Homo sapiens: one gene and its partners. The protein of the gene in region 3 purifies or fractionates together with the protein of the main gene of each other region. This does not show direct contact. Each region holds a gene or a part of one and is shown on either strand. Other genes may lie near its edges. The genes, in order: ARID1B, SS18L1 and BICRA.

Region 1 (3,500 bases), on a different chromosome or scaffold from region 3:
TGAGGCGACAGGACCGAGTTGGGTCCCACAGTTGGAAAGGGATCTTGTGCCTCTGCAGACGGGCACACCATCCAGTGCAGCAAGCCATCCAAAATTGGCAAGCAGATGCTTTCCGTGTAAGCAGACAAGTCTAGCTGCCCGGAAATGTTGGCCAACGTGACCAACGTGTTATCCCTCAAGACCTCGAGGCAGTCCCACCACCACTCATCTTTGCTGCAGGCCACCCCCTTGTCCTCATCCTCCTCTTTCTCATAGGTCTGCGGTGCTCGCTTTCTCTCTGGATGCTCGTGGTGAAGAAGAATCAGCTTCCCCAGGATCAGCACCAGGCCTGGATGTTTGGACATTTCGGCATCATTGCCAGGCACGAATGACAAGCTACGGACAATATTGGACACACAGATGCATCGCTTAGCCAGCGAGTCCTGCCAGTGCGCGATGGTACACAGAGGAGTCTCGTCTCGGCTCCTGGGCTCGTCCTCCAGCAGCTTGATGTTCCGGTGACTTTTGGCTTGCTGGATACCAAAGGGAAACTTACTGCTTTCGGTCTGGGGCCCAGGGTTTGCGTCTTCAGGCAATGCCCCTGGCCGAGCAGAGAGGACGTCATCGATGGTTGCTATGATGCTTTTCTCTTGCTGCTCTTCAGAGTCGCCTTTGCCTTCTTGCTCTTTCTTTCTACCTGCGGAGCTTAAGGGGGGAGGTGGGCGCCTGCGAGGAGGAATTTCCATCTTGCTCTCAAAGTGAGTCTGAATGTGCTCGGTGGTGTCACCCCCGCCGAGCTGCCAGTGCAGAAGGCCACTATTGAACTCCTGCACACGCCCCAACTTGTCAGATCGGTCAACAACAAACAGGTTGTTCTTTTTGACTATCTTTATTGGCAGCTTGTCGAACTTACTGGCTTGCTTGGGCTTCTCCTTTGGGTCTGCAGCGGCGTCCGGGGCAGTCAGAGCGATGCTGCTCTTTTCATCGCTTTCTGTCTTCTCGCTGTCTTCCTCCTCATCCTCCTCGTCTTCCTCGTCGTCATCAATACATTCAGCATCTTCCTCCTCTTTCCCAGAATCGTCTGCCAAGGACTGGCTGTCATCCTTCCTTGCTGCGTTGTGATCAAGTGCTTTTTGGCTGGGGTCTCCCACTTCATATTCCATAAGAATTCCAAAAATGTCAATCAGGCATTTTCTAAAGTACTCGACTAAAAGTTCGAGAAATCCAGACAACTGGAGAGGAGGAGGAGGAGAAGAAAGAAAGAACAGGTACAATGTCATGACATCAGATATGACCGAGGAGGGTAAAGATCCTGAGACCCGTCAATACCTTTCCATCATTGTCACACGTTTGTCTCCCTTTTTGGCTGGACCATGAAAGATAAACTACCCTTCAGGTCCAGCGAACTTCCTGAATTTTACAGTATAAACTAAACCGATGTTTAGCATGTTCCTTATTTGCTGCTTCCTTGCTTAGACTATCTACACGAAAACTTACTTTTTATTCTCATATCTCTAATCTTATCACTGAGGGAGTGCCTTGCTGTTCTTTACCTTTCTGTTCCTGATTTAGAGACAATGTACTCATTATTAGAAGAGTGGGAACATGGATTTTATAGACTCTTTTGCCCAAAGTGACTCTGTTCTCTTCTATTATTTATCTGAGACTTGCTTGCCGGGATTTTTATGGTTGTTATTCTTAGGATTTTATGGTTATTTTTGTCTCAGGTACCATAGGTCACCCTAATTTATGTTCTCTATATATCTTTTGGAGAAGATAATTTCAGCAATGTGGTAGCTCATGAACACTGAAAATTAAAAACAAATCAATTTAGCCTATGATAAATAAATTAAAATGTTTCATAAAATGCAATTTTACATTTCAGTTATTTATGACTCTAGCTGAAAGGCAAAAACCACTATGAGAGAACCACTGACTACAAGAACAAGTTTGGTTTCCTTTAAGCAACTGTACCAAGAAAAAACCAATACACTTCACGATTAGCAACTGCCCTCTCTCCCAACACCCCCCACCATGTTTAGGAACTCTAAAGAGTAAGTAACAAGGATTCTAACAAGGATTCTTTCCCGGTAGATGTTCTGGAAATCAGCTATACCTTCATATCCTACTGTCAGTTTCTTGAAAGTAGAGTTGGAACAATTTTTAAGAAGTCAGGGGAAGCCCCCAGCACCAACTAGAAAGAACTGCTTTTAGTGTGCTGAAGGCACAATGTTCCAAGGGCATTTTCCCTTTTTTTTCCAGGGGAAAAGGGAAAGTTAATAAAGCAATTCTGGTTATGCAAATATGTGATCAACAACAGTTCACCTAACATAAGGATGAAAGCGCATTACTCTAGCAAATGCAGTATACAGTTTTTAAATACTTATTTTCTGTTAACACAGAACTCGTACAATGTTTATGACCTTATTAATAAACTTTCTAGCAATTGAAAAATTGCCTTTCTAGGCTGATAATGAGGGCTTAAATGAGAGAAGAAAGAAGTAGAAGATTCTGGTCTTATTTCCTTAGAAGCAAGGAAATTAAGTGTTTTAGTTTTTGCACTCAAAGTAGAGAGTTGTTTGTATACTATAGGGAAAATGACCTTTTTCCATTTTTTATTTCTAAATATTTCTTTAAAAGTCTATAGCCCAGTGGACTCGGGCATTTTCCCCAAACTTCAGTGCTCCTCTCTTCTAGCTATTATGCTGGAAGCTACCTGAAGCCTACCTCTGAACAAAGGAGGGGTTTAAGCTCATTAAAAGTAGTAGGCTTTTACATGACTGCTTCAAAATAACCTGGAGAGAGGCAGAAATGAGAGAGCATAGACTAAGAAGTAAGTTTAGCCATGAGTTCATAACTATTTTAGCTGACTGACAGGTACATGGGGGTTCATTAAACTGCTCTCTCTCCTTCTATATATATTTATACATTCTATAAATGTATAGAATATAAAATTTCTAAATCTTGAATATCTTTTTAATGAAAAGAAGATGTCAAGTCCTCCTGGAAAGCAGGGTTATGTCCCATTGCAACCAACTGTGTTTCCAATGCTGACTCCAGTCACAACTTAATGTTACATTTTGATTTCTTCCCATTGGCCAGCTAATATTCATTCTGAACAATTTAATGTTACTACTGTCATCTATCCCATATACACATACACACACAGTCACTGTTCTCTCATAAGAAATAGAGGTATGTGTGTGTACACACACTAAAGACTACAGTGAATATTATCCCAGATAACTCTACATTGATTAAGGCTGGTTGATAACAACTGCAGTGATTAACAGTGTTGGACGGTCAGTGCTCATCAACTCAGGCATTAGTTCAAGCACAAATGTGCATGGCCTGATGCTCTCCTATCCTAATTTGGTTGTTAGTTGGACTATGCTGGCTTACCTGGGAGAGATTGAAAGTAGCAACAGTGCTGTCATCATACAGAAGAATATTAATAGTGTCCAAAGCCCACGTACTCTCAGCCAAAAGACCTGATTTAAGGGACATCATCACACGCCACG
Region 2 (3,724 bases), on a different chromosome or scaffold from region 3:
CAGCAGCGGCCCTACGGCTATGAACAGGCAAGCTTTCTGGATGTTTCCAGATGTGCCCATCCGCCGCGCCTGTCGAGACATAATGAAGATTTCTCTTATGGCCATGAGGAATAATGAGCTGGAACTAACTGGCTTCCAGGGTTCCTTCCAGAACGTTAAGTCTCTGAGCCTGTAAGGTTTTGCAGAATTGCCTCTGTGTATACGCTCACCTCAGTCATCCAGCTGGCTTTTCATACCCTAAGCTCACCGTTAGATCTGCACGCCTGGTTCTCACATTCATTCACTCTGCCAGTGTTTGTCACGTACTGGGTACGCGTCCGGTCTCTGCTGAGTGCTTGGTGTGTGGCCGCGACACGAACCCTGCACTTTTAGAGCTTATGTCTCGCTACAGAGACATAAGGTGGTCCCACAGGGCCAGACTGTGCTGAGGACAGAGCGGGGGGCCCCAAATGGAGCCCGCCTTCCAGATGGGGGCGCAGGCGACCGCATTTGGCCCGTGTGGGCAATTCCAGGACGAAGACACAGCGGGGAGTGGCTGGCAGCCCCAGGCTCAGCCTAGGGAGGGGGAAGCCCTTTCTGCCCAGGAACAGTGAGCAGGGCTTTGAAGGAGCTGAGGAAAGAGCAGCTTGGAAGATGGAAGAGCGGGAGCTCTCGGGACAGTGAGGAGGCCGGTGTGGCGGGAGGTGACAGGGACAGGTGGGCGTAGGGGCCTCCATAAAGCAGACATCGCTTTCCCTCTGAGTGGGATGGGGCCCCTGGAGGAGGACAGGGTCTGTGTGGTGGGAGCACTGCAGGAGCGAGGGCCTCCTAGAGGAGAATGAGCCAGGCAAGGGAAGAGGGCGTGCCAAGGTCCTGAGGCACCAGGAGGTTTGTCCCAGTGAAGGCAGCCTGAAGGAGGCTCGGTGGCTGGAGCACAGGGCATATGAAGGAGAATGGTCTGGGACATTTTTTGGAGCCTCCTTTGAGAGAGTCCTTAGCAGGAAGTGGCTCTGTGTTGGTGACTCTGAGGTGGCTGGAGGTGTTAGGGACACTTTACACTGCCAGTGAAATTTCAAAGCACTACATCGCTCAAGTTTGTTTTTCTCAGGGAATTGGGTAGGTAAGAGGCCAAAGACTGTTTTTTAAATGCTTCTCGTCCTCCTTCTTCAAGAGGGCAAAGGGTCACCAGGTAGATGTAGAGAAGCCTAAAGACCATGTAACACAGTCTCCCTGCCAGGGCACCGTACTCGGCCATGCCTGGGAAGGGCACGCTGATGAGGCATTTACACAGATGTCAGGAGGGCTCTGGTGTGCTCTCAGGACACTGTGAGGCCACTGTAGCCGACGCAGGGGCCGCCTCTCCCCAGTGTGTGCTGGGCGCTGGTCAGCGGGGAGCAGGCCCCAGCTTGGCCCTCCAGGTTTGCACAGGAGTGTCATGCTGGAGTCTGGAAGGACAGCAGTCTGCATCCTGATGTTAAATTAGAATTATATGTGAATGATTCTGATGAGACGCCATACCTCCTTCATACAGTCCTGAAAATAACTTATTTGGATTTTGTGAAATAAGTGAATGTCCTAACTTAATTATAAGACTGAACCAGAGGACATATAACTTTATACCTACCTATGAAAAGACCGTGACCGGTCGTGGTGGCCCATGCCTGTAATCCCAGCACTTTGGGAGGCCAAGGCAGGAGGATCACTAGAGCCCAGGAGTTTGAGACCAGCCAGGGTAACATAGCAAGACCTGTCTCTACAAAAAATAAAGTAGTCAGGCATGGTGGTGCATGCCTGTAATCCCAGCTACTTGGAAGGCTGAGGCACGAGGATCCCTTGAGCCCAGGAGGTCGAGGCTGTAGTGAGTCGTGATTGCACCATTACACTCCAGCCTGGGCTACAGAGAGCGAGACTTTGTCTTAAAAAAAGGAAAAAGAAAGGCCAGGCGTGGGGGCTTACACCTGTAATTCCAGCACTTTGGGAGGCTGAGGCGGGTAGATCACCTGCAGTCAGGAGTTGGAGAGCAGCCTGGCCAACATGGTGAAACCCCATCTCTGCTAAAAATACAAAAATTAGCCGGGTGCCTGTAAGCCCAGCTATTGGGGAAGCTGAGGTGGGAGAATCGCTTGAACCGGGAAGGCAGAGGTGAGTTGAGATCACGCCACTGCACCCCAGCCTGGGCGACAGAGAGACTCCATCTCAAAAAAAAGAAAAAGACACAGAGCAATGGGGAAGATAGAGAATAGAATTTCACATCTGGGGGGAAATGTGTCCATCTAACTGCAAAATATTAAGATAGCCTTTAGTCAGCATCCAGTGTAGCTGGCCGTGGCGCTTTGGCACAGCACTGCCGGCGCTGGGCGTCTCCTAGGGGCCATTGTGCACACTGTGTTATGTTTGCAGCACCCCTGGCCTCCACCACGATGCCAGTAGCACCCCCATTGCCCAGTCTGACAATTTAAAATGACTCCAGACATTGTCAGATGCCCCAGGGGCAAAACTGTCTCCGTTTGAGAACCACTGGGCTACACTTAAACATGTGCTGAGGCGGCCAGGCGCTGTGGCTCACGCCTATAGCACTTTGGAAAGCAGAGGCGGGCGGGAGCAGATAGAGACGGAGGTTGCAGTGAGCTGAGATCGCGCCATTGTATTCCAGCATGGGCAACAAGAGCGAAACTCTGTCTCAAAAAAAAAAAAAAGGTGCTGAGGCATTGGGGCTGCCAGTGGTTTTATAGGGCTCCAGGGCTGCCATGCCTTCAGCTGAGCAGCTCTGGATTTGAGGCTTTCCGTCTTACCCAATGGTGCAGGAGCAGAAAGACATCAGAACAGACTCCCACTAACTAGAATCATCACAGGCAGCTCTGGGAATGAGAATGTGACGTGTTCGGTCAGGCTGGAACAGCTTTCCTCCCTCCCCCACTTCCTCGCTGGGGGCATTCGGGAAATCTGATCATTAACTAGCTGGGGACACATGGAGAACAGGCATGCAGATGATGATCCGTTGTCTTCCCCTGTGGCAGTCTCCCGAGTGGCTTTCACCACAGGTCCGATGCTCCGTTTTGCTGCCCAAGGAATTCTGCCTTGTGGCCTTGTGGGGCACAGGCTCTCTAGTTTCTCTTCTTCATGTTGTTTTTTGTTGTTGTTTTTGAGATGGAGTCTTGCTCTGTTGCCCAGGCTGGAGTGCAGTGGCACGATCTCGCTCACTGCAGCCTCTGCCTCTCGGGTTCTAGCAATTCTCCTGCCTCAGCATCCGGAGTAGCTGGGATTACAAGCACGTACTATCACACCTGGCTAATTTTTGTATTTTTAGTAGAGACAGGGTTTCGCCATGTTGGCCAGGGTGGTCTCGAGCTCCTGACCTCAGGTGATCCTTCCAAAGTGCTGGGACTGTAATCCTACAGGCATGAGCCACTGTGCCTGGCCTTTTTTTTTTTTTTTTTTTTTAAGACAGGGTCTCACTCTGTCGCCCAGGCTGGAGTGCATTGGCAGGAACATGGCTCACCGCAGCCTCAACCTCCGGGGCATGCGCCACAACATGTGGCTTATTCTTTTTTTTTTTTTTTTTTTTTTTGAGACAAGGTCTCACTCTGTCACCCACACTGGAATACAGTGGCATGATCTCGGTTCACTGCAACCTCCACCTCTCAGGCCCAGTGATTCTCCTGCCTCAGCCTCCCAAGTAGCTGGGATTACAGGCACGTGCCACTACCACCTGGCTAATTTTTTTTTTTGTATTTTTAGTAGAGAT
Region 3 (3,724 bases):
CATTCCATCCAACACCTGCCAATTAAGGGGGTCACAGTCCCCAGGAGAAATAAACTGCCTAAGAATGACAGGTGACACCGACACTGACTGACAAGGCTACCTTGGCACTTTATGGGTGTTTGGGGACCCTCACAAGAGCCTTACCAAGTAGGTACTGATATGAACCCACTTAATAGAGGGGAAAACCAAGGCCCCAAGCAAGTCCCCTGTCCACAGCCATTCAGCCAGCAAATAGCAGAACTGGGATTAGAACCAACAGGCAGGGCCCAGAGCCCACGCTCCTGACCTCCACACCAGGTGGCAAGCACATGACGCAGGCCATAAGCAGGAGGAAGAGGCAAGGAGGTCATCAGACACAAGGAGGTCACCTGAGGCAAAGACACGTGCAGCCTGGAGATGCTGCCTGGGCGACAGGTGGGATCACATTGAAGAGGAGAGAAAGAGAACAACTTTCTTCAAGGTGCAGCATGAGGGGCCGGGCACGGTGGCTCACGCCTGTAATCCCAGCACATTGGGAGGCCAAGGCGGGAGGAGTGCTTGAACAGGATTTCAAGACCAGCCTGGGCAACACAGTGAGACCTCGTCTTTACCAAAAATATTAAAACTCCCTGGGCGTGGTGGCGTGCACCTGTAGTCCCAGCTACTGGGGAGGCTGAGATGCGAGGCTCACTTGAGCCCAGGAAGGATAATGCTGCAGTGAAAAGTGATGGCGCCACTGCACTCCAGCCTGGGTGACACAGCAAGATTCTGTCTCAAAAAAATAAAAAAAGATGCAACGTGCAACATCAAAGGTGCTCCGTAAGAGCTACCAAAAGACAAATCACTGGCCCTTGATCTAGCAATCCCACTTCCAGGAGTCTATCCCACAGGCGTACTCATTTCCCTGTAACATGTGCGGACGTATGCCTTCCCATGCTTCACACAGAAACCTTTGGAAACACCTCCACGTCCATAACAGTAAAGGAGGATTCACCCACACAGAGGAATACCATGCAGCCAAGAAAAAGATAGAGGAAGACCTACATTGGTAGGGTCTCCCAGGGAGATGAAGCGTGGAAAAAAAGCAATGCATAGACCAGACTACCATCTGTGTAAGATGAATAGTTTTTTGTTTGTCTGTTTGTTTGTTTTAGACAGAGTCTCGCTGTGTCGCCCAGGCTGGAGTGGAGTGCAGTGCTACCGCAATCTCGGCTCACCGCAACCTCCGCCTCCTGCATTCAAGCAATTCCCCTGCCTCAGGCTCCTGAGTAGCTGGGATTACAGCCATGCACCACCATGCCCAGCTCATTTTTGTATTTTTAGGAGAGATGGGGTTTCACCATGTTGGCCAGGCTGGTCTTGAACTCCTGACCGCAGGTGATCTGCCCACTTCAGCCTCCCAAAGTGCTGGGATTACAGGCGTGAGCCACCATGCCCGGCCTGAATAGTTTTAAACACATAACATCCATATATAAAAGTACATGCACAGAACATCAGAATGGAGGTGCTGTCTCTGGGGAAGAGAGCTAGGGGACCAGGGATTCTGGAGAGGTTAGAGGGAGAGACACCATCTTTAGTGTTCTGAATTTGCCCCGTGTGTGTATCACTTAGAACAAAAGGAACAAAAGGCAGACAGAGAAAAAGATGATGTCTCAGACCACCCAGACAGAATGAATGAAACCCCACAGCGGCTAATCCAACCGTTCTCTCTCCTCCTCCTGGACTGTGTCCCAAGGTCTTAACTGATCCCCAGGGCCCTGTCACACAGTAGGCCCTCAGGAAGTTTAATTGGGAACAATTAAAGAAACAAAGGCCTTCTCTGCTTGTGCCAACACTCCTTTCCCCCTCCCCCCAATGAATACATACACTCATACACAAAACTAATTGTCACCAAACTAGAAATGCCTTAGAAAACTCTCCCTCTCCACTGGGGAAACTTGCGTGTCACTGAGACACAAAAGCTTCAGTCAACTGGGACAAAACTCTACTGGTGGTACTCCAGGCAGAGGAGAATGCGAGGGACGGAACCAGGAGACACTCCCTGGGGACCCCTCAACCAAACGCTCCCCATGCGTCTCTAGTGTGGCATAAGGTGCATCCTACCAGGGAGCTAGCTCAGACAAGACAGGGGACAAAAAACCAGAGGGATATGAAGGGGTGAGTAAGGAGGGGGCAATTCTTCTGCTGGGGGAGCAGGCAGCAGTTGTCATCGTGGACACGGCACGGGTGACTGCTCTTGTTTCTACTAAGTGAGGGTGCCTGGTCGGGGAAGAAAGCTCAAATATGACCAGGGCAAGATAACCATACTCCCCACCCCTCTCCCCTGCAGGGCGGGAGAAGGGAAATGGCAGCCCCTCTGCCTTCCAAGCCCAGGCGGCCTGGAAAGGAATGCCATGTTTTCCTGTTTCCAATTAACTTCCCCTACCAGCAGCCTTCTGCATTCTTGAGACCTGGAGTCAAGGCAGCCTGGCGGGTGGGGGTTGAGAGCTGGCGGGGGAACTGGGCTGCTGGCTAGACCTGGGCTACAAGGTGGCCCACGGGAACCTGGGGAGCCTTATACACCCCCAGGAACTCCCCCTTCATAGGCCTCTGGGTGCTGATCCCCTGGCCCTTCCACAGCCTGGGGCACACCCCACCTCCTGAAGGAAGGTTAGGGAAGGGCCACAGGCCTCTGAGAAGGAAGTCAGCCGGGAGACCCTCTAGGGCCTCACTCGGACTTCTCCCACCAGCCCCCCAAAAAGATCAGTTCCTACATTCAGCCAGCACTCAATCTTGAGAGATCTGGGTGTCCCCACAGCCCCTCTCCTCCTGCCCACCTCCCCCGAGAATTCTTATTACTTATGCCTGTCATCTCGCCAAGGGAAATAACTGCACTTAAAGGAGGGGACAGTGGCTGCGGGGATAAGGGGTCCCTTAAAGCTCCTGGGATCAGACCCCATGAAGCACCATCTCCCCAGTTCTGTTGACAAATACGGAACCCCCACCACTAGTCTCTGCCGTCTGGCTTGGAGTCCCAGCTCGGCCGTGGAACATGCTTCCCCTGGCCTCAGTTTCCCCATCTGTAAAATGGCAAGATCACCTGTATTACCTCCTACACTGGGTGAGCTGGGTCCAGCCCCTCTCCGTCAGCCCCCCAGCCCCTCTCCCTCAGCCCCCCAGCCCCTACAGCTAAGCATGTATTCCGCATGGGTAAAGTGCTGAAGGGGTAGGGGCCTAGTCCCCAAAGCGCTCAGAGGGTGCGTGTCACTGAAGGGGAATTGTTCGTTTGCAGGTGGCCTTCCCAGACCACAGGGAATTCTTCTGGGGCAAAGGTATTCTGCCACTCACCTTTACATTTTTTATTTTATTTATTTTTTTTTTTTGAGACAGGGTCTCACTCTTGCCCAGGCTTGAGAGCAGTGGCACAATCACGGCTCACCCCAGCTTCAAACTCCTAGGCTCAAGCAATCCTCCCACCTCAGCACCCCCAAGTAGCTAGGACCACAGGTGAGTGCCACCATGCCCAACTAATTTTTTCATTTTTTGTAGACACAGGGTCTCACCGTGTTGCCTAGGCTGGTCTTAAAATCCAGGGCTCAAGCAATCCTCCAGCCTCGGTCTCCCCAAGTGTTGGGGTTACAGGTGTGAGCCATGGCACCTGGCCTTAAATTTAAATGCCAGTCAGATTACCTGAGGTCAGGACCTCAAGACCAGCCTGGCCAATATGGTGAAATCCCGTCTTTACTAAATATACAAAATTTAGCCA

What was found.
Region 1: the proteins of BICRA (region 3) and ARID1B purify together in Homo sapiens (affinity purification with mass spectrometry, with the first as the bait; one large-scale study listed by BioGRID). This does not show direct contact.
Region 2: the proteins of BICRA (region 3) and SS18L1 purify together in Homo sapiens (affinity purification with mass spectrometry, with the first as the bait; one large-scale study listed by BioGRID). This does not show direct contact.

What each region holds. Positions count from the first base shown.
Region 1 is NC_000006.12:157,203,878-157,207,377, reverse strand, and holds part of ARID1B (AT-rich interactive domain-containing protein 1B), read right to left. Parts: coding exon 3,382-3,500; intron 1,212-3,381; coding exon 1-1,211. UniProt on the Homo sapiens protein: Involved in transcriptional activation and repression of select genes by chromatin remodeling (alteration of DNA-nucleosome topology).
Region 2 is NC_000020.11:62,174,618-62,178,341, forward strand, and holds part of SS18L1 (calcium-responsive transactivator), read left to right. Parts: coding exon 1-27; coding exon of another isoform or gene 28-114; exon of another isoform or gene 115-1,701; intron 1,702-3,724. UniProt on the Homo sapiens protein: Transcriptional activator which is required for calcium-dependent dendritic growth and branching in cortical neurons. Recruits CREB-binding protein (CREBBP) to nuclear bodies.
Region 3 is NC_000019.10:47,612,031-47,615,754, reverse strand, and holds part of BICRA (BRD4-interacting chromatin-remodeling complex-associated protein), read right to left. Parts: intron 1-3,724. UniProt on the Homo sapiens protein: Component of SWI/SNF chromatin remodeling subcomplex GBAF that carries out key enzymatic activities, changing chromatin structure by altering DNA-histone contacts within a nucleosome in an ATP-dependent manner.